Regions from separate parts of the Homo sapiens genome. Here region 1 is linked to region 2. The links come from fine-mapping of genetic effects on gene expression. A gene starts in region 2. The other region holds a variant in brackets. All regions are shown on one strand. Distances are from middle to middle. Region 1 overlaps ACTR2 (actin related protein 2). Region 2 holds the start of ACTR2 (actin related protein 2).

The links. PIP is the estimated chance that this variant, and not a neighbour inherited with it, causes the effect.
Region 1: its variant is fine-mapped to the expression of ACTR2 in whole blood (TOPMed, PIP above 0.99).

Annotation. Positions count from the first base shown.
Region 1 is chr2:65,265,585-65,277,194 of GRCh38, forward strand. It overlaps ACTR2 (actin related protein 2), which reads left to right. Exons shown (of 9, transcript NM_005722.4): 9 at 2,980-5,669. The coding sequence ends at 3,150. Among named protein-coding and RNA genes, the nearest start is that of ACTR2, 44 kb to the left of the region's middle. RefSeq lists an enhancer at 9,509-10,176. The variant T/C (reference allele first, on the strand shown) is at 4,916.
Region 2 is chr2:65,221,463-65,233,072 of GRCh38, forward strand. ACTR2 (actin related protein 2) reads left to right here and starts at 6,369. Exons shown (of 9, transcript NM_005722.4): 1 at 6,369-6,495. The coding sequence starts at 6,448. It overlaps LOC124907779 (a long non-coding RNA gene), which reads right to left and starts at 6,137. Exons shown (of 2, transcript XR_007086461.1): 1 at 6,019-6,137. RefSeq lists enhancers at 5,360-6,249, 6,250-7,138, 7,211-7,300 and a silencer at 6,521-6,710.

The DNA of each region.
Region 1 (11,610 bases), 44 kb after region 2:
TGCATATGTTGTCTTCTCAGTCAGATTGAAAAACATCATGTCTCAAAATTTTTTGCATTCCGGTGACTGTCATAACTCTTGAAACAGACTTTAATTGGTTGTTGTTGGTATGTACAGTAGAAAGAAATTTTTAAACTAGAAATAGTTGATGTTTCTTTGGCATAGGTTTTTGTGTTTTTTCCACCAGACTCTGGACTATGTGAAGTATACAGTATGTGCTGTATACTTAACCAAGAGTTATCTAATCCTGAGTTAATCTCTGAGCTTTGTCTCACTGACTTTGATCAACTGTTTTAGATAATGAGATTATGTATTACAGAGTACTGTATGTTACATCTTTCATATATGACTCATTGTTGAAATTAAATTGAGTATGGGCTCACATACATTAAACAGATTAACAGACTGGAAAGGAGCCATACTGTCTAAGTACTTCACTTATTTTTCTGATTTTATTGAGTTTTACATATAATTTATAATTAATCTCAGGTGATCATTTATTCAGCAAACATTTCTTGAACTCCTGGGTGCCAGACATAGGTCTAGGTGCCGGGGACAAACAAAACAATGAAAACAGAATCCCTGCTTTTAGTCTAAATAATGTATTAGTGGTAATAAGTGATATGAAGAAAAGTAAGGTGAAGAGCTGGAAAATGTTAGTGGTTGGGGAGGTAGTGTGCTCCTTCATAAACTGTGATCAGGAAAGGCCTTTTGGATGAAGTGACTTTTGATCAGAGACCTAAGTTGAGCGTGAGAGGAGTGAGCCTTGTGACTGTCTGGGGGAAGAATCTTCCAGGCAGGAAAAATGCAAAAGCCCCAGGTTGGTGGGAGTGTGCCAGTGTGGCTGGAGCAGAGTGAGCAAGGGAGGGGGGCAGGTGGGATATGAGGTCAGAAGGGTAGCAGGAGGGCAGGTCTTGTTCAGCCATGGTAAAGGGTTTGGCTTGACTCCTGGTGAAATGGAAAGTCTTGGGTGTGGGGGCGGTTTAAGCAGAGAAATGATAGGATCTGATGTATATTTTTAAAGGATCATTAAGTCTGGTGTGGTGAATAGACTCTTGGGGGAAGAGGGAACAAAGGTGGGCATAGAGAGACCAGTTAGGAGGCACTGAGAGGAGGGGAGGGATGGTAGAGTTTTAGAATAGAGGAGGAGGTTGAAATGGTTGTTTTGGAGAATGGAAGCGAGAATAGAGAAATGTAATAGGATTGCCATGCAGCAGGAAGGGCTCAGTTGAGGTTAGTGATACATTATAGCAAGATGTTTTGTTTCTTTCCTATCTTGTTCAGCTGCTTGACAGCAGGTGCAATTTGTCTGTAGGAATCTGTAGATGAGTTCAGCAAGGAGGGAGTGGTAGATGGAATGATCTGATAGAATGAGTTTCAGTGGGGCTATGGAGTTTTAGGGATGAGCGAGATAGAAGCAGCAATGAAGAGCAATAACTCATATTACCAAACCTCCAGGGTTAAGGTAGTGTGTGAGAGAGAAACAGTAAAGCAGTTGAGGTATTTACAGAAGCAGTGTCTTCAGGGGCTAGCTAAGTTTCCCTTAGAGTAGAGGTGGTCATCTATAGCCCTTATGCCAAAACTGGTTTGTTTGTTTTTTTTAAGTTTTATTGGAACACAGCCAAGCCCATTTGTTTACATAATGTTACCTGTTGTCACATATTGTCTGTGGGCACCTTCTAGCTACATGTGGGGTTGGGTACTTGTCACGCCTACAAAGCCTCAAGTATCTGGCCCTTCACAAAAAAAGTTTGCTGACCCCTATGTAAGAGCAAGAAAGTAAAAGGAACAATTAAAACAGTCTCAGAATTGGTAAATAAACTGATGTTTTTCTTTATCTTGGATTGTTAGAACCCTTACAGTTCATTTATGTGACATAAATATACAAATGATTTAGAATGACATAGTTACATTGGGTCTTTTTTGCAGATCGTGATACTGTAAATGAAAAACTTGCTATGTCATTTTAAGGTTTCTCTTTCAGGTGTTGACCAACCATAAAGATAAGGATGTGTCCTTCCTAGACACTTAATAGTAGCTACAGAGTATAAAACTTTTCCCAATTGCCTTTAATTTTGGTTACTGTGTTCATTTTCTCATAACATCCTGATGATTTGTTTTGACCATATTTGGCCTTGTTTATTTTAAGAACATTTCATTTGATTTTGAGACAATAGAAAGTAAGCTTTGCTTAAAAGAAAAGAACTTCAGTTTTACTCTATTGCCCTGGACTAGAATCATAACAGTATGAGACCTTGAAGAAGTCATGCAAGTCCTCTTTTTTTTTTTTTTTTTTTTTTTTTTTTGAGATTGAGTCTCTGGGCTCACTGCAAGCTCCACCTCCCAGGTTTACGTCATTCTCCTGCCTCAGCCTCCCGAGTAGCTGGGACTACAGGCACCCACTACCATGCCCGGCTAATTTTTTTGTATTTTTAGTAGAGACGGGGTTTCACTGTGTTAGCCAGGATGGTCTCGATCTCCTGACCTCGTGATCCGCCCGCCTTGGCCTCCCAAAGTGCTGGGATTACACTTGAGCCACCACACCCAGCCATGCAAGTCCTCTTATCCAGACTTTGCTTGACAGCAAAGTGACTTTCCCAAGTGGTCATCTGCCATTGGATGGGAAATTTGCTCTAATTATGTCTTGGATGTTTGGTCTCTCAGTAGGGTGTTAAGTCATGTAATTTACTGATCAAATTAGGACACTCAAGAATGGAAAGGGTGGTATTAATAATGATGGGACACCACGTGTAAATCAGGACTGTTCCAAGCATGCTGGGATGGATGTGTGGTCTCCTAAACATGAGCTTTGGGCAAATTACTAAATGTTTCTGTACCTCAGGTACCAAATATTACGTTCTACTTATATTACAGGACTGTTGCAAGTTTGAGGGAGAGCATATATTTAAAAAGCCATTTTCATAAAGCAGAAAGCACTGTGCACATGTACCATTTCATTATCCTTTCTTTCTCCTTTAGAAATTTAAGATCCGCATTGAAGACCCACCCCGCAGAAAGCACATGGTATTCCTGGGTGGTGCAGTTCTAGCGGATATCATGAAAGACAAAGACAACTTTTGGATGACCCGACAAGAGTACCAAGAAAAGGGTGTCCGTGTGCTAGAGAAACTTGGTGTGACTGTTCGATAAACTCCAAAGCTTGTTCCCGTCATACCCGTAATGCTTTCTTTTTTCCTTTATTGCCAATCTTTGAACTCATTCAACTCCAGGACATGGAAGAGGCCTCTCTCTGCCCTTTGACTGGAAAGGTCAAGTTTTATTCTGGTGTCTTGGGGAAGCTTTGTTAAATTTTTGTTAATGTGGGTAAATCTGAGTTTAATTCAACTGCTTCCCTACATAGACTAGAGGGCTAAGGATTCTGTCTGCTGCTTTGTTTCTTCTAAGTAGGCATTTAGATCATTCCTATAGGCTTCCTATTTTCACTTTACTGCTCTAATGCTGCTAGTCGTAGTCTTTAGCACACTAGGTGGTATGCCTTTATTAGCATAAAACAAAAAAAACTTTAACAGGAGCTTTTACATATTACTGGGATGGGGGGTGGTTCGGGATGGGTGGGCAGCTGCTGAACCCTTTAGGGCATTTCCTCTGTAATGTGGCGCTTTCAACTGTACTGCTGCAGCTTTAAGTACCTTAAAGCTTCTCCTGTGAACTTCTTAGGGAAATGTTAGGTTCAGAACTAAAGTGTTTTGGGTGGGTTTTGTTGCGGGGGGGAGGGTAACAATGGGTGGTCTTCTGATTTTTATTTTTGAGGTTTTGTCAACTGGAGTACGTAGAGGAACTTTATTTACAGTACTTTGATTTGGCAGGTTTTCTTCTACTTGTGCTCTGCCTGGAGCTGTTTCCATATGATATAAAAAGCAAGTGTAGTATTCCATTACTATGTGGCTTAGGGATTTATTTGTTTTTTAAAATCAACCATGTTAGCTGGGATTAGACTCCCTACAGTCCTTCAATGGAAAAGTAACATTTAAAAATCCTTTGGGTAATTCGAATTACAGATTTAAAAGAGCTTAAGATCTGGTGTTTTGTTAATGCTTCTGTTTATTCCAGAAGCATTAAGGTAACCCATTGCCAAGTATCATTCTTGCAAATTATTCTTTTATATAACTGACCAGTGCTTAATAAAACAAGCAGGTACTTACAAATAATTACTGGCAGTAGGTTATAATTGGTGGTTTAAAAATAACATTGGAATACAGGACTTGTTGCCAATTGGGTAATTTTCATTAGTTGTTTTGTTTGTTTTGATTTGAAACCTGGAAATACAGTAAAATTTGACTGTTTAAAATGTTGGCCAAAAAAATCAAGATTTAATTTTTTTATTTGTACTGAAAAACTAATCATAACTGTTAATTCTCAGCCATCTTTGAAGCTTGAAAGAAGAGTCTTTGGTATTTTGTAAACGTTAGCAGACTTTCCTGCCAGTGTCAGAAAATCCTATTTATGAATCCTGTCGGTATTCCTTGGTATCTGAAAAAAATACCAAATAGTACCATACATGAGTTATTTCTAAGTTTGAAAAATAAAAAGAAATTGCATCACACTAATTACAAAATACAAGTTCTGGAAAAAATATTTTTCTTCATTTTAAAACTTTTTTTTAACTAATAATAGCTTTGAAAGAAGAGGCTTAATTTGGGGGTGGTAACTAAAATCAAAAGAAATGATTGACTTGAGGGTCTCTGTTTGGTAAGAATACATCATTAGCTTAAATAAGCAGCAGAAGGTTAGTTTTAATTATGTAGCTTCTGTTAATATTAAGTGTTTTTTGTCTGTTTTACCTCAATTTGAACAGATAAGTTTGCCTGCATGCTGGACATGCCTCAGAACCCTGAATAGCCCGTACTAGATCTTGGGAACATGGATCTTAGAGTCACTTTGGAATAAGTTCTTA[T/C]ATAAATACCCCCAGCCTTTTGAGAACGGGGCTTGTTAAAGGACGCGTATGTAGGGCCCGTACCTACTGGCAGTTGGGTTCAGGGAAATGGGATTGACTTGGCCTTCAGGCTCCTTTGGTCATAATTTTAAAATATGGGAGTAGAAAACAACAAAGAATGGAATGGACTCTTAAAACAATGAAAGAGCATTTATCGTTTGTCCCTTGAATGTAGAATTTGTTTTTGATTTCATAATTCTGCTGGTAAATGTGACAGTTAAAATGGTGCATTATGTATATATATTATAATTTAGAAATACCATTTTATAATTTTACTATTCCAGGGTGACATAATGCATTTAAATTTGGGATTTGGGTGGAGTATTATGTTTAACTGGAGTTGTCAAGTATGAGTCCCTCAGGAAAAAAAAAAAATTCTGTTTTAAAAAGCAATCTGATTCTTAGCTCTTGAAACTATTGCTACTTAAATTTCCAATAATTAAAAATTTAAAATTTTTAAATTAGAATTGCCAATACTTCTACATTTGAGAAGGGTTTTTTTAGAAATACATTTAGTAAAGTCCCCAAGACATTAGTCTTACATTTAAACTTTTTTCTTTAAAACATGGTTTTGGTGGTTAACTTTTACACAGTTCTGAGTACTGTTAATATCTGGAAAGTATCTTGAGATATCAGTGGAAAGCTAAACAGTCTAAATTAACATGAAATACTTCATTTTGATTGAGAAAATAAAATCAGATTTTTTCAAAGTCAATTTGAATTTTGTCATTTCTTTCTAATAGTTATTTCTTGTTTCATTTTCTTGTTAATGCAAGATGAATTGACAGTTTATGCTAGTTGTTAGGTCAAGTTCATGTCAGTGTTCTATTATTGACAAAACAACTCATTATTTCTGGTATGATTTTATAAATACATAAGAAAATAGAATAGCGATTTATAGCTACATCAGAGGCTGTTTTCTTCCAACAAACTGTTTTGTCTCCCAAAAGATTTAAGGTGGCTTTCACAGAATTAGAAATGCTAAAGAGACCTGTATGTAACATGCCCCCTTTCAAGGACATATTAGCTCATCTGCAGACTTTTAGGCATATTATTTTTAACAAATAAAAGAAGGATGAAAATACATTTAACTGACCTTTTCTTGTTTTATACTAGCCTTGAGGATGAGGGCTGGAGAGTAGAGAGAGTATTTTTGCCTTTCCTTCTTCGTGGACTTGTATGTGCAAACCTCATTGCCCGCTTCAGGGCCGGAGTCCCAGACAGCGAACGTAAGGGTTGTCTCTGGTGTTTTATCTAGTTTCTTCTGAGTTGCGGAAGAAGAATATGATAACAGCTATCTCCATATGTAATGGAGGAAGAAAATACCAGGCACTGCATAGTGCCTTTGATGGAATGAATGTCTCTCAGTGCACTTCATTTTTTTCCTCCACCCACAAACTTTGACCATTATACAATTGAGTGAGTTTATTAACTGTATTAATTTTAGAACCATCAAAGAGGGTAGCCAACTAAAGTGAACCAGAAACTCGAGGATTAATCTAAACTCGATTTTTTCTTTCTTTTGAGACGGAGTTTCACTCTTGTTGCCCAGCTGGAGTGCAATGGAGCGATCTTGGCTCACCGCAGCCTCCACCTCCCGGGTTCAAGCGATTCTCCTGCCTCAGCCTCCCAAGTAACTGGGATTACAGGCATGCGCCACCACGCCCGGCTAATTTTGTATTTTTAGTAGAGAGGGTTTCTCCATGTTGGTCAGGCTGGTCTCGAACTCCCGACCTCAGATGATCCACCCGCCTCAGCCTCCCAAAGTGCTAGGATTACAGGCGTGAGCCACCGCGGCCGGCTAAGCTCAATATTTAACATGCTCTCTAACCTTGGACTAATTGGCCAACTACACACAATACTGGGATACTTTTTTCCTCTGGCTCAAAAATCTCTGACCTCTTTGAAGATTGAAAAATGCTACATCAGAGGTAAGTGGAGGAGGTAAGGGGACGTACCTGGGAAAGCATGTTTGCATGTGTGAATAACTAAAAGGCTAAAATTAGTGACTTTAACCATTATATTGAAAGTAACTTTTAGTCATAGAATAGAAATAAACTTGATTTAGAGGAGGTGAAAATAGGCAGCTATTACAAAAATTTCAAGTGATGTTCACATTAATATAACATTTTAAAAACATTCTAAAGCATCTTTCTTTGTATTGTTTAACATCTGAAATTAGGAAGAAAGAAGCTATTGAACCATAGTTACTTTTGTTTAAATTATCTAGACTGGCAGTGACAAAAAGTCTTGTTGCCTATTATAAGTGTCTCAGTTTGCGTTATCTGCAGATGTAAAATATCTGAGTAGGGGGAATTCAAATGATTTATCTCTTCCTTTTGGCAGAATGGAGTTCCTGTCTCTTTCATATCTACCCCCTCAACTCCTCCCACCCACCAGAGGAAAAAAGGAAAGACTGGAAAAGACTTGGCATATAATTTTCCATGAAACATTTGACGTAGGAATAGAAGAATTAGAGAATGTTGAGTAGATTTTCATGGACCAGTTGAAAGGTTTGGGTTTGGCAAGTGCAGAAAGCAATCACAAAGGTATTACAGAGTGATTCTTATGCCCAGGGTAGCCTTTAAGAACTGTACCCTTTGCCATTCACAGCAAGTGGAGCTTTTGCCTGATGAATGCTTTAAAAAATCGGTAAAAAGAAAACTCCAGTGAGTAAAATATTTGTTCTTCCTTAAATATGGGTTTGAAAAAGGGCCTCAACTCTCAAGGATAAGGATTTTTAAAATTATACTTTTTGTGCATAAAAGTGTAATTACGACCGGGCACGGTGGCTCAGGCCTGTAATCTCACCACTTTGGGAGGCTGAGGGGGGCCAGTAACCTGAGGTCGGAGTTCGAGACCAGCCTGACCGACATGCAGAAACCCCGTCTCTATTAAAAAATACAAGATTAGCCAGGTGTGGTGGCACAAGTCCGTAATCCCAGCTACTTGGGAAGCTGAGGCAGGAGAATCGCTTGAACCCGGGAGGCAGAGGTTGTGGTGAGCCGAAATTGTGCCATTGCACTGCAGCCTGGGCAACAAGAGTGAAACTCCATCTCAAAAAACAGAAAATGTAATCATAAAAATGTGAATGCAAATGCATTAATATCAAAGGAGGTTTTAAGAAATTAGGGAAATTCTAAAAGTCTGCCACAATATTAATTGGATCATTTTAAATGAGTATGTTTATGTGAGTGCCTTGATGTTCTGTAGGGGTTGAGATTTTTTTCGAGGTGTCTGTGCACAAGAAAATTAAGCGATCTATTTTACTTTAGAAAACCAAATCTTGCTGGGCATTGTGTAATCCCAACAATTTGGGAGGTCGAGGCAGGCGGATCACTTGAGGTCAGGAGTTTGAGACCAGCCTGGCCAACATAGCAAAACCTGTCTCCACTAAAAATACAAAAAATTAGGTGTGGTGGCGCATACCTGTAATCCCAGCTACTCAGGAGGCTGAGGCAGGAGAATTGCTTAAACCCAGGAGACAGAGGCTGCAGTGAGCCAACATCATGCCACTGCACTCCAGCCTGGGCAACAGAGCGAGACTCCATCTCAATAATAATAATATATAAAAATCTAAGGGTTTCCTGAGTTGTTAATTCTTATATTTTCATATTTTCTTATGTTTACATGTATATATTCTTATATTTTTATATTTTGTGACAACTTAGTGTTTGAAGAGTAAGAAATTTGGGCCTAAATGAGGCTCAGTTGTTAAATTGATAATACACATTTGACCCCTTTATTGGAAACCTACAATTTACCTCCAGATGTGTTTTTTTTTTCCCTGCTAACTTAGATCTACATTTGAAAGCTTCTGGCATTAATTAATTTTTATTTAAGAGCTATTAGGAAGGAGTGGAACCTAAACTATGGTGACAATTTAAAGGACCTTGATTCAAAGAATCAATTAAGGAGGCTGTCCTCTTTGTTTTGCTTTTACTTAGTAGTTTAGGTGGAATTCAAGCAGATAATATTCAACCTCTAAGTTCCCTGCTTACACAACTTGGAATTCTAAAGGAGTCTCTAAAATGAAAACATCCCACAGGAAGTGATGTAGCTAAAGTATGATTATCTGTATTTTTAAAACAAATTACTTGTCCTTCAAATGTCTTTTTCAGTATGGGGTCAGAATCACATGTTCCTTTTGTTAAAAATGCAGGCTCTTAGGCGGGGCGCGGTGGCTCACGCCTGTAATCCCAGCACTTTGGGAGGCCAAGGCAGTGGGGGATCACCTGAGGTCAGGAGTTCGAGACCAGCCTGATCAACACGACAAAACCCTGTCTCTACTAAAAGTACAAACCGGGCATGGTGGCGGTCGCCTGTAATTCCAACTATTCCTACTCAGGAGGCTGAGGCAGGAGAATGGCTTGAACCCAGGAGGTGGAGGTTACAGTGAGCTGGGATCAGCCACTGCACTCCAGCCTGGGTGACAGAGCGAGACTCCATCTTAAAAAAAAAAAAAAAAAAAAAAAAGCAGGCTTCCTTGAGCCCCACTCTGGACCACCGAATGGAGCCTGAGGGTTTGCTTGTTTTCCAACTCTTCCCCCACAACTCTCATACTCCTGTTTTAGGGGCTAAGAGGACAGTCAGGCTTCAAAGTATGAACCACTCTCCTGGGCCCACACCTGCAATGCCCTTCTTTCCTCCTCTTCCTGGGGAAAACTAGGGCTTTTAGCAGATGGGTTCAGAAGTGACACAGGAAGCAGCCCTGGGAAGCCGGAACCACTTAGAGACCATCTTTTGCCAGTGTGCTGACCTCTGCTCCACCTCCCCCAAATGGATCTTCAGTTCAAATGGATGATAAACACCTTTTCATTAAAAAGGCCAGTTCTGGGATGGTTAAAGCACCATCAGTCATTTACACATCCATTTGTATTAAAAGGAAATCCAGAGACTCACACTGACGCCTAGGGGAGATTAGCAGCTCTTTGTGATGTAAGTGAAAGGAAGGTCTGTAACTTTGGCCTAAGGAGTGCATTGGAGAAAATTGGTAGGTTCCTGAGGAAATTCAGTTTTTAGAGCAAGCTCACTTTTTAGGGCAAGCTCACCTTGGTAGATGAGAGTTGAGTGCTGGAAGTGGTAAAATAACCAAAGCAAACTGCTCATTTCAACATTCCTTTCTCCTCGCTTCCGACTTGCAGTGTTCCAGCTTCCTGAACTCAAGCTAGTACAGCTAATGCTACAAGTTTAGCTGCTTGATACATGAAAGTGATTTATAATCAGGCCAAGAAACCAACCTACCAGATGTAGCTTTACTTTTAGAGAGCATGTATGTATTTCAAGTTCTATGCAACTGACAAATGAACTTTTGGATGCAACTTGTTCAAAAGTGGAAGTATTGAATTGTTTATGGTGACCAACAGTCCACACATTAATGACTGCTATAATTATGTTTCTTATGATATCAAAACTGACATGGTCCCCTAATACAGAATGCAGTTCATAATGTGGATTTGGGGAGTGCCAGTGTTCACCATTTGTGTTTTTGAAACACAAGGTATAGGTGGTGTGAGGAAAACTATCTTCTGACTTTAAGCTACTATTTTTTAAATGGTATGACAACTTTATGTTGATTTCTTTTGGTTAATCCGACCAGTCTTAGTGTTGCATGAAAATGATCTTCATCATTTCCATTTCATAGCAACTCTTTTATGCCTTAAACATTTTTTTTCTGTTCATACCATTCAAAAGAAGCTAAGATTTGTGGTGTGAGCCAACACAAATCCTCCCTCAGGTGCTTTAATAACAGTAAGACAGGCTTCCTTGAATATCCTAAATGAAAGCTTTGTTTTGTTGCACTTTTGAACAAATACGTGAAGAGAATGATTTATGTAATGAAATTCCATGTTTTAAGAGTCTAAAGAGGATTGGATTTATGGTTCTTCCACCCCCATCCCCACCATTGAAACTAGAAAACTTGTGACTTTGGCCCAGATCGCAAAAACCTTTGCTGCTCCCAAGTTCCCTGAACTGTTAGGATAAAATAGAATACTAAAGAGTACCTTAAACTCAGAAGGCATGATTTGCTAACTGTCAACCTAAACCAAATGGCAGCTCACACCACTAGCTGATTTTATTCAGAAGATAGGGCTAAAGGAGAAACTTTTCCCACTAAATTTCAGTACAGTTACTACTTTCAAGAATACACCCTGTTTTCTTCAGGCTCTGAGCTTGTCTGCTGAAATAATTAGCTGTGAGGCAGACAGGGAAAGAATTGCATCTGCAAAAAGCAGGAAGACAAGGTCAAGAGAAGAGGAGGCAGCTTGACTCACAGCTGCCCACCCTGCAGAGGAGCAGAGCTTGCCAAGAATATCCACATTGATTTATGGAGAAAAAATCAGGAAACCATTCACCCCAGATAGCTTGGATTTGTGACAATATCAGTGTAAACGATTTCCATTTAGACTGTGAATTCCGAGTCTCCGTAGGTGCTCCATTTTTTCCCACCTTCGCCCCTTCTCCGAGCATTTCTAGCAACACTCGGGCCAGTGATTCTCAAACTTTGGGGTGCCTGAGACTCTCTTGAGCTAGTGACAATGCAGATACCTGGCTCCACTTCCAGAAATTGAGGTGACACTCTTAGGAAGGGGTCTTTTGCACTTAGAAAAATGTGAATCAGAAACCAGGGAAATTTTGTAAGAATTAAGCTACAG
Region 2 (11,610 bases):
TGGTGAAAACCCATTTCTACTAAAACTACAGAAATTAGCTGAGTGTGGTGGCATGCGCCTGTACTCTCAGCTATTGAGGAGGCTGACGCAGCAGAATTGCTTGAACCTGCGAGGTGGAGATTGTAGTGAGCCGAGATAGCGCCACTGCACTCCAGCCTGGGTGACAGAGCAAGACTCTATCTCAAAAATAAAATAAAATAAGATAAAATAAAATAGACATATCAAACAAATGTAATTTTTGGACATTGTTTAGAACATTTTTGAGACAATTAGGAAAAACTGGATATGGGCTATTAGCCAATAAGAAATTACTGTAAATTTTGTTAGTTATAATAAAGGCATTGTAATTGTTTTATTATCTCTTTTTTTTTTGGAGACAGAGTCTCACTCTGTCACCCAGACTGGAGTGCAGTGGCACCATCTCAGCTCACTACAACATCTGTCTCCTGGTTCAAGCGATTCTCCTGCCTCAGCCTCTGGAGTAGCTAGGATTACAGGCACGTGCCACCACACCAAGCTAATTTTTGTATTTTTAGCAGAGATAGAGTTTCACCATGTTGACCAGGCTGGTCTCGTACTCCTGACCTCAGGTGACCCACCTGCCTTGGCCTCCCAAAGTGCTGGGATTACAGGCATGAGCCATCGCACCTGGCAGGTATTGAAATTGTTTTAAGTGTGTTTATCAGTAGAACTACCATATGATCCAGCAATCCCCACTGCGAGGTATACATCCCTAGAAAGGAATCAGTATATTGGAGAGATATCTGCACTCTCATGTTTACTGCGGCACTATTCACAATAGCCAAGATAGGGAATCAACCTAAGTGTCCATCAATGGATGAATGGATAAAGAAAATGCAGTACACATACACAATCGAGTACTATTCAGCCATAAAGAAGAATGAGATCCTGTCATGTGCAACAACATAGATGGAGCTGGAGGACATTATGCTAAGTGAAATGATCCAGGGACAGAAAGACAAATATTACATATTCTCACTTACATATGGGAGGTAAAATAGTAGATACCATGGAGATAGAGAATAGAATGGTCGTTATCAGAGTCTGGGAAGGGAAACTGGGGAGGGCGAAGACAAAGAGAAATTAGTTAATTGTCAAAAAAATACAGTTAGATAGAAGTTCTAGTATTTGAAAATACAATAGGGAAATTATAGTTGACAATATTTTATCATATATTTCAAAATAGCTAGAAAAGAATAATTGTATTGTTCTCAGGCTGGGCATGGTGGCTCATACCTGTATTCCCAGATCCAAGTGAGATGATAGAATCCCTCCCAAAAAGTCCTTCCTAGGCCAGGTGCAGTGGCTTACACCTGTAATCCTAACACGTTGGGATTGGGAGGGAGGATCCCAATGAGATGAGGATCACTTGAGGCCAGGAGTTGGGGACCAACCTGGTTAACATAGCGAGACCCAATCTCTCTCTCTCTCTCCCTCTCTCTTTCTCTCTCTCTCCCCCTCCCTCTTTCCTTTTTTTTTCTTTTCTTTCTTTCTCTCTCTCTCTTTCTTTCTTGCTCTCCCTCTTTCTTTTTCTTTCCTTTTTTTTTTTTTTTTTTTGAGACAGGGTCTCACTCTGTCACCCAGGCTGGAGTGCTGTGGGGTGATTTCAGCTCACTACAACCTCTGCCTCCCAGGCCAATCAGCTAATTTTTGTATTTTTAATAGAGATGGGGTTTCACCATGTTGGCTAGACTGGTATTGAATTTCTGGCCTCCACTGATCCACCTGCCTTGGCCTCCCCAAGTGCTGGCATTGCAGGCATGAGCCACCGTGCCCAGCCACAATCTCTATTTCTTTTAAATACAATAAAATAAAAAACAATAAAATTATAATAAAAAAGTCATTCCTGAGTAGGATGACTCGGGTTAAGAATGACTTAGGTTTTCATGATAGATCTGGAGTTTCCAAAACTCTGGGTAAACAGAGCTCAGGCTTTGAGGACAGGCACACCTGTGTCTAATCCTGCTTCTGCTACATGATAGGTACATTTGGGCAGGTAACTTAAATTTTTTAAAGCCTTATTGGAGTTACAACATGAAATTTACACATCTCAAAATTTACCTATTACAAGTGTGCAGTTTATTTTTAGTAAATTTTTATGGTTGTGTAACCATTACCAAAATCTAGTTTTAGTATTCCATCAATCCGTAAAGTTGTCCCATGCCCATCTGCAGCCAAACCTGGCTTCCAGTTTCAGCCCCAGCAATCACTAACCTGCTTTCTGTATCTATAATCTTGCTTTTTCTATATTTGTGATTTTCCTATGAAATCACAGTCTTTTTATCTGCTATAGTGTTTTTTTACTTTCATCCATGTTACAGCATGTATTGGTTTATTTTTATCACCAAATATTCTATTGTATGGCTGTACTACATATTGTTTACTCATTCACAAACTGATAAGACATTTGAATAGTTTCCACTTTTTGCCTATTATGAGTAATTCTGCAATGGACATGTAGGTATGAGTCCATGGACATATGTTTTCATTTCTTTTAGGTATATACCTAGGCGTGAAATTGCTGGGTTATATGGCAATTTATGCTTAATTTTTTAAAAAACTGTCAAACTGCTTTCCAAAGTGCCTGTACCATTTTACATTCTCACCAGGAATGTAGGAGTGTTTGTTTCTCCACATTCTTGCCAAACTTGTTTTCCATTTTTTTTTGTTTTATTTTGTTTTGTTTGTTTTTGAGACGGAGTCTCGCTGTCACCCAGGCTGGAGTGCAGTGGCACGATCTCCGCTCACTGCAATCTCTGCCTCCCAGGTTTAAGCGATTCTCCTGCCTGAGCCTCCCAAGTAGCAGGGATTACAGGCACCTGCCACCACGCCCGGCTAATTTTTGTATTTTTTAGTAGAGACGGGGTTTCACCATGTTGGGTCAGGCTGGTCTCAAACTCCTGACCTGAAGTGAGCCACTCGCCTTGGCTTCCCAAAGTGTTGGGATTACAGGTGTGAGCCACCTAGCCCCGCCAAAACTTGTTTTCTATTTTTCTGATTATAGCCATTCTAGTGGGTATTAAGTGTTATCTTATTATGCTTTCAATGTGCATTTCTCTAATGATTAATGATGATGAATATCTTTTTATGTACTTATTTGCCATTCATAAATCTTCTTTGGTAAAATATCTATTCAAATATTTTCTTCTAGTTCATGGCTTTTCTTTTTCTTTTTCTTTTTTTTTTTTTTTTTTGAGATGGAGTTATGCTCTGTTGCCCAGGCTGGAGTGCAGTGGCATGATTTTGGCTCACTGCAACCTTTGCCTCCTGGATTTAAGCAATTCTCCTGCCTCAGCCTCCCAAGTAGCTGGGATTGCAGGTGCCCGCCACCACGCCCAGCTAATTTTTGTATTTAGTAGAGATGGGGTTTCACCATGTTGGCGAGGCTGGTCTCAAACTCCTGACCTCAGGTGATCCACTCGCCTCAGTCTCCCAAAGTGCTGGAATTACAGGCGTGAGCCACTGCGCCCGGCCCTTTTGCTTTATTTTCTACTTTTTTTTTAATTGCTTGTTGCCTAAGACAGACCAAGATTTTTTGTTTTTGTTTTCTTCTTCTTTTTTTTTTTTTTTTTTTTTTAGATAGGGTCTGGCTGTCACCCAGGCTGTAGCGTAGTAGCGCAATCTCAGCTCACTGCAAATTCTGCCTCCTGGGCTCAAACCATCTTCCCACCTCTGCCTCCCAAGTAGCTGGGACTATATGCACAGCTAATTTTTGTATTTTTTGTAGAGATGGGGTTTCACCATCTGGCCTAGGCTGGTCTTGAACTCCTGAGCTCAAGCGATCCACCCACCTTGGTCTCCCAAAGTGCTGGGATTACAGATGTGAGCCATTGTCCCAGTCTAGATTTTTTGTTTCAATACATGAACTAAAAGCTTTAAATTTCTATTATGTCAACTATCAATTTTTTCTTTTATAGATCACGATTTTAGCGTCATATCTAAGCAAACTTTGCTTAACTTAATATCAAAAGATTTTCCTCTTTTTCTTCTGAAATTTATAGTTTTAGCTTTTATATTTAGGTCTATGATCCACTTAAATCAATTTTTATGTGTGATGTGAGGTAAGAATCAAAGTTCTTTTTTTTCCCTCCCACATCATTCATTGAAAAGATTACCCTTTCCCCATGGATTGTTTTAGCACCATTGTTGAAAATCAACTGACCATAATGTAAAGGTTTATTTGTGGACTATTTGATTCCATTGATCGATATATCTGCCTCTATGCCAGTATTACAGTCTTCATTACTGTAGCTTTATAATAAGTTTTGAATTCAGGTAGTGGAAGTTCTCCATCTTTTTCTGTTTCGAAATCCTTTTATTCTGGTTCCTTTTCATTTCATATAAATTTTAGGGCCAAACTTGCCAATTTTTTTTTTTTTTTTTTGAGACAGAGTCTTGCTCTCACCAGGCTGGAGTGCAGTGGCACGATCTCTGTCACTGCAACCTCTGCTTCCCGGGTTCAAGCGATTCTCCTGCCTCAGCTTCCTGAGTGGCTGGGATTACAGGCGCGTGCCAACACGCCCAGCTAATTTTTGTATTTTTAGTAGAGACGGGGTTTTGCCATGTTGGTCAGCCTTGTCTTGAACTCCTGATCTCAGGTGATTTGCCCTCCTTGGCCTCCCCAAGTGCTGGGATTACAGGCGTGAGCCACCGCGCCCGGAATAATGTTCTTTCTTTAAAAATACAAATTAGCAATCCCCTTAATTCCACAAAGAGGAAAAGTAAAAGAACACAGAAATGCTTGAGTTCAATTTGCTGAGACCAATAAAATGCACTTTCAAGAAAACTGCACAGCACTAGCATTGGAGGCCACAAAAATAAGATACGGACTCTATACTCAAGGAATTTATGAACAAATAAATTTTTCTGCTGGCTGAGGTACTTCTCTGACTGTTAAAGCAGGTAAAACGAAGAAATGTTCCTCCGAGACTTCCTACCTATTCTAACCTCTCAAACTTCTAATTGCAACAATGGCAGCTTTATTTTTATCTTAATATTTATGTGTTGAGGGTTCCATATAAGATTAGATTTGAATAAAGCACTGTATGCCTTTAAAAAGGTTTGAAAATCACTGGTCTAATAAAAGAACAGTGAAAACTGACAGGCAGCTATATTATAAAAAGAATACTGGATTGAGGGTTCATGATGACTGTTTTATTCTAGTTGTTGAACATGTACAGCCATGTCGAAGGAAAAGTTCTATTTCTCACCTCTCATAAAGGATGGCATTTTAAAGGTGAATTTTAATGTCATTCATCTAATAAATATTTGTTGCATGCAATAAGCACAATGTTATTCATATATTCATAGTAAAGTAATAGGGAGAAAGGAAGTACGGAATATCCTGAGGATATCAGCTGTCATCAGAGATGTAACAAGCTGGGTCTCAGAGCACAAGTTTGCCAATTGATTAAAAAGGAAAAAAAATGAGGCATCGTAGATAGAATCATAGGTCCAGAAGAACAGAATTAGAAATAGCTACCACTGAATGAACATTTCCTCCATGCATAGACTTTTATCCTCACCACACCTATGGAGATAGAAGTTATTATCCCCATGCAGACAGGGGTATGCCAAAATCACAAAACTCGTGAGTGGCAGCGCCACGTTTGAAACTGGGGTTGTCTGATTTCAAAGCCAAGGCTCTGGGTTCACAGAAGTACATGTACTTAAGAGGTGTGAAGCAACATGGGACTACTGGAAGGAGGCGGTGAGCCACGAGGCTGGAAATGCAGGCACCTGCTCTCGCTCACTTGACCATAGAGCAACTTGGGCAAAGAAGGGGTGGGCTGACATTGGAGTATGGAACAAACGCATGATTTCAAATAAGCATGTGTGTATCCATCCCAGTTCTGTCCGCTGAAAAGGCCTAGAAGCAATAACACACCAAGCCCTGTCGAATGGTGGGGTCCGCCAGGACCTCCAGGCTTGCTCCCCGCCCTACCCGCCAGCTTCTCCGCCACATTCCACTGCCGCAGCAGAACCGGTGTCCTTCACCTGCCTGCGTCTTCTGCAGTTCGTTAAGCAGCGCCCTTAGCTCCTGTGACACTTTAGGGAGAAAGCCGCAGCACCGGCGATGTTGGCCGCCATTAACGCCCGGCAAAGCGCCCGGAACTAGAAGCAGCGAAGAACCCGGGTGGGCAGCGACCGTGACAGCCGAGCCGGAAGCGGAGCTGCGGGAGGGGCCTCGACGCTCCTCCATCTTTTATTGGAGCTCACCGCTGCCAGTCGCGCTGCCTGCCCGTCCCACCCTTTTCGTGCAGGCATTCAGCTAAATGACGGGCGGAGCCCGGCGGCGGCTTCCGGTCGGGGGAAAAAAGTTGGGCCGAAGGAGGGGCCGGGAAGACGCAAGAGGAAGAAGAGAAAACGGCCGGGCGGCGGTGGCTGTAGGTTGTGCGGCTGCAGCGGCTCTTCCCTGGGCGGACGATGGACAGCCAGGGCAGGAAGGTGGTGGTGTGCGACAACGGCACCGGGGTAAGGGCCGCGCGAGGAGGCCTTGGCGGCCACAGACGCCGGCGGGGACGAGCAGCTGGCGCACGGGCCCTCGGCCCCCAGGGCTGCACCTCCGGGCCCTCGGGGCGAAGGGGCGCGGGGCGGTGCCTCCCACCTCCGCGGGCGTGGGAGCGAGCCGGCCGTTCCCTGGTCTCCCTTGAGCCTGCCACCCATTTAGCCTGCCACCCCCTCACCCTTCCGGGTGGGGGCGGCGGGCGAGACCGGCACTGGACATGGAGCCTACTGACCGCCCGGCAGGGACCTGCTCCGCGCTAATGCGGGGGCAATTGGGCTAAAGCGGACGGAAGCGTAAAAGGCTCGGTTTGTGTGTTCCGAGAAGGGCTCTTTTCCCCAGGGCCACCGGTTTGTAAAAAGGAGAAAGACCTAGAGGCCTTCCTCTTCCTGTATAGTTGAAGATACACCAAACGAGAAGCAGGAAGCGGGTTTACTTAAAAAAAAAAAAAAAAAAAGGGAAGTGCTGTCATGGAGTGTGGACCTCAGCCCTTTCGCTGTGTTTGTTGGGCTTTTTATTAGTTTTTTCGAGGGAAGGGGTCCAGATCGGCAGCGCATCGTTCACTTTTTGTTTTACATACTAGTATTTGGCCCAGGAGTAGGCCCACGGAGACCAGCATGTTCCATTGAGTGGTTTTGGGTGACCTAGGATCCCGCAAGACTCAAGTGTTAATTCCACTAGCCTTAGGGGAAGTTAATTAGTGTTGATTATCCCACCCCCAGCCCCCTTTTTTCCCTTCGTTTCAGTATACAGGTAATGTTAGCCTTTAAGATTCAAAAATTGTAAAATCTGACTAAAGCACTGATTTAGAAACTATTTGAAAATTGTTTCTGTAATCCCAGCACTTTGGGAGGCCCAGGCGGGCAGATCACCAGAGGTTAGGAGTTCGAGACCAGCCCAGCCAACGTGGTGAAACCCCGGTCTCTACTAAAAATACAAAAATTAGCCGGCCGTGGTGGTGCTTGCCTGTAATCCCAGCTACTTGGGAGGCTGAGGCAGGAGAATCCCTTGAAGCCAGGAAGCGGAGGTTGCAGTGAGCCGAGATTGCGCCACTGCACTCCAGCCTGGGCGACAAGAGTGAAACTCCGTCTCAATTATAAAAAAAAAAAATTGTTTCATTCAGACCTCCCTCTTGCCAGATTAAAAAAAAATGTATTTTGGGTAGCAAAGTCAGCAAATTAGAAGATGGAAATATTATTTATTCTGGATGACTTCTATAGTGATTTCTAACCATTTTGATGTTGCAACATTTTGTGAGTTTTCTCCCCTCCCTCCCATAAATATGATGTATGAATTAAAGTTCATTTTACTTGAACAAAACACTTTGGAATCTGAATTGTTGAGGGGGAAAAGAGCTGGTATTTACTGCCATAATACTGCCCTTGATTAGATTTGTTACACAATTTTACAAGCAATAATTATGGTAGCTTCATCTGAACTGTGTTAAAAATGGACTAGAGTAAAAAGAGTGTTAACGTACATTGAGGCCAGGCGCGGTGGCTCATGCCTGTAATCCCAGCACTTTGGGAGGTCTAGGCGGGCGGATCACCTGAAGTCAGGAGTTTGAGACCAGGCTGGCCAACATAGTGAAACCCCGTCTCTACTAAAAATACAAAAATTAGCCGGGCATGGTGGTGGGCGTCTGTAATCCCAGCTACTCGGTAGGCTGAGGCAGGAGAATCGCTTGAACCCGGTAGGCGGAGGTTGCAGTGAGCCGAGATCGCACCACTCCAGCCTGGGCGACAGAGCAAGACTCCGTCTCAAAAAAAAAAAAAAAAAAAAAGAAAAACAAAACATATTAATGTGACGGTTTTTAAGAATGTAATATTTTTAAAAAGGCAGATCCACTGCTATGGAAACGTCTAAGATTTTAAGTTGAAAAAGGTTTTAGAATGATTCAGTTTAAGTGTGTGTTCCTTATTAAAGATGTATGTCCACAAACTTGTATCCGCATATGAAAGTTTTGGAGGGATACATAAGAAATGTTCATAATGGTTACCTATGAGACAGAGGATAAGGGAGTGAGGGAAGATGGAGAGGACTTCATGACCTTTCTGAATTATTGGAAAAATGTTCTTTATTTGAACAAAGCAAGTATTATTAAACTATATTTAAACTAAATTAACCATAAACGCATGTTACATGTGCGGCTAAAATTCAGTTAAATGTGCTTTTTAAAAAAGTATTAGCCTGATTTCCACTATAGTTTCAAATTGGCCTCTAAATAAATAAAAAACTTTAAAAATTGAATTTAAAATTTTTTGTTTTGTGATTGTGTCAGATACTCTTTTTAGAAAGTCAAGCCAGTTATATTTTAATGAATTCTTTTAGGGGTTCAAGGTAATGAGCCCTGTATTTGTAGTATATATGAGTTTTTAAATATTAAATTAGAATGGGAATGTTAACCGAAGCTGATTTTTTTTTTTTTTTTTTTTTTTTTGGACACAGGATCTAGCTCTGTTGCCCAGGCTGGAGAGCGATGGCGTGATCTCGGCTCTCTGCAACCTCTGCCTCCTGGGCTCAAGCGGTTCTCCTGCTTCAGCCTCCCGAGTAGCTGGGACTACAGGCTTGTGCCACCACACCCAGTTAATTTTTTTATTTTTGTAGAGACTGGGTCTCCCTATGTTACCCAGGCTGGTCTTGAACTCCTGGGGTTAAAAGATCTGCCCACTGCGGCCTCCTAAAGTGCTAGGATTACAGGCTTGAGCCACTGCACCCTGCTGTCAGAAGCTAATGTTATGTTACTATTCCATTAGTTAGCTAACATTAGAAGGCTGATTTTAGGCTGGGCGTTGTGGCTCATGCCTGTAATCCCAGCACTTTGGGAGGCCGAGGTAGGAGGTTCACTTGAGGTCAGGAGTTTGAGACCAGCATGGCCATCATGGTGAAACCCCGTGTCTACTAAAAATACAAAAATTAGCCGGGTGTGGTTTCTGATGCCTGAAATCCCAGCTACTTGGGAGGCTGAGGCAGGAGAATTACTTGTACCTGGGAGGCAGAGGTTGCAGTGAGCCAAGATCACGCCACTGCACTCCAGCCTGGGCGACAGAGTGAGACTGTCACAAAAAAAAAAAAAAGCTGATTGTAGTATGTTATTGATTAGTCTTGTGTCTAATCCATGTTTTTAAGATTCTTTTCCTTAAGACAAGTGATCAATTCCTGTCATAAATGAAAAAAGTGAGTGTAATTAATTCAAATAAAATTTATCTGTTCTTATGCTTCTAGTTATTTTAAAATTTTATGCAGATTTTCTATGGACATGATTGGTTTCAAATGAAGAAACAGTGCTGTTAAAATACATGAATCATATAACAGGAATGCTGTAATAGTTCTGAGTATGTAGAGGACTAGGAACCGCTTAGATTGTGTATTCTGTTTCTTACCATTTGTAGACATGAATAATCATCTTGATTTTATTTAGATACCTGAAGTTATAATGATTCCTTTATAATTAAATATTAAAGAAGATATTCAGATGTAATTTTGCAAATTTATGGAAATAGTTGTTATCCTAAGGTGTTTTCATTTGCTCCTTACATGCCTTAGGTTTTAAAATTGTAGGCTGGCTGGGTGTGGTTCCTCATGCCTGTATTTCCAGCATTTTGGGAGGCCGAGGTGAGAGGATTTCTTGAGGCCAAGAGTTTGAGACTAGCCTGGGTTAGTATAACAAGACCCCATATCTAGTAAAAATAAAAATAAAATTACAGGCTTTTTAAAAAGTTACGATTCTTTTAACCTCTCTGGCAGACCCAAATTAAATATTCTAGGACAGGAGTGTCCAGTCTTTTGGCTTCCCTGGGCCACATTGGAAGAGGAATTGTCTTGGGCCACACATGAAATACACTAACAATAGCTGATGAACTAAAAAAATCACCAAAAAAATTTCATAATGTTTTAAGAAAGTTTGTGAATTTGTGTTGGGCCTCATGCAGCCCGTGGGCCATGGGTTGGACAAGTTTGCCTGGAAACAAGTTTGTACTTACGATCACATGACCAATGTTGGTCCCGCTTGATTTTCTATCTCCCAGCTTGACCAGTGTCTCAGTAGGGTTGCCCAGAGGAGGAAAACTCATTTGATCCAATAATTTATGTGGATTTTAACCATTCAAACCTCCTTCTGAAATCAAGCCACTTAAAGTGGCCCAGATAGGTGAAAATCTGGAGGTCTGTGAAACTCTAGGTTTAGGTCCTCTTCACGAGCTAGGCCCAGGCCCCTGGTGTTACGTGTCTTGTTACCAGACTAGGGTGATTTCATCAGCATTGAGTTAGATCACCAACAAAATGAAGGTTTCTCCAGTGCGTGCTATGTTGCTGGCACAGTGCTTAATAAGGTCCAGTCGTACAGAGAAGCTTATAGTGCTAGAATAATTGCATTTGCATTTATGTAATTGACATTTGTAGTTGATTGTGGCCTGCTTTATCGGGCTTATGCTACTTTATATGTTGAATTTAGGAGTGTTTGAAACAGAAACAAACCAAAACCAAATTTGGTTTCATCTTGCAAAATGCTTTGGTATAAGTAGAATAAATATTTTGGTGGCCTAAGATCAGAACAGTCACTGTGCAGTTAACTTACTAAAGAACATCAGTACCATGAGATAAAATTAGTAAGGGGAAAATAAATATTAAATAAGCCCAAATGGGGCTTTATAAATCCCAGGTTATTATTTTTTTGAAGAGAAAAAAAAAATGTACTTTTAGAGCAGATGTAGATAGAATTTTTCATTTTTGCTTGAAAGAACATTATACTGTTCATATTCTTACCATTTGATGACTCAGTGGGAAGTAAGGGAACTAGTTTAAACCACACTGCTGTGAAGAGGAAACTATATATGGTAAAATCTATTTCTTAAACACAGCCTTACTGCACACAATGAAAGAACGAAGTCACCAAGTCTTAAAATGATTGACATGGGGGAGGAATTTCAAGGATTAAGATGATACCAATGATACCAAATGATAGTTTAGAAAGGAATGTTTTCTTTGTATTTTATCACATCATGGTTTAGTTTTTTTTTTTTTTTTAGACAGAGTCTTGCTCCGTTGCCCAGGCCAGAGTGCAGTGGCATGATTTTGGCTTACTG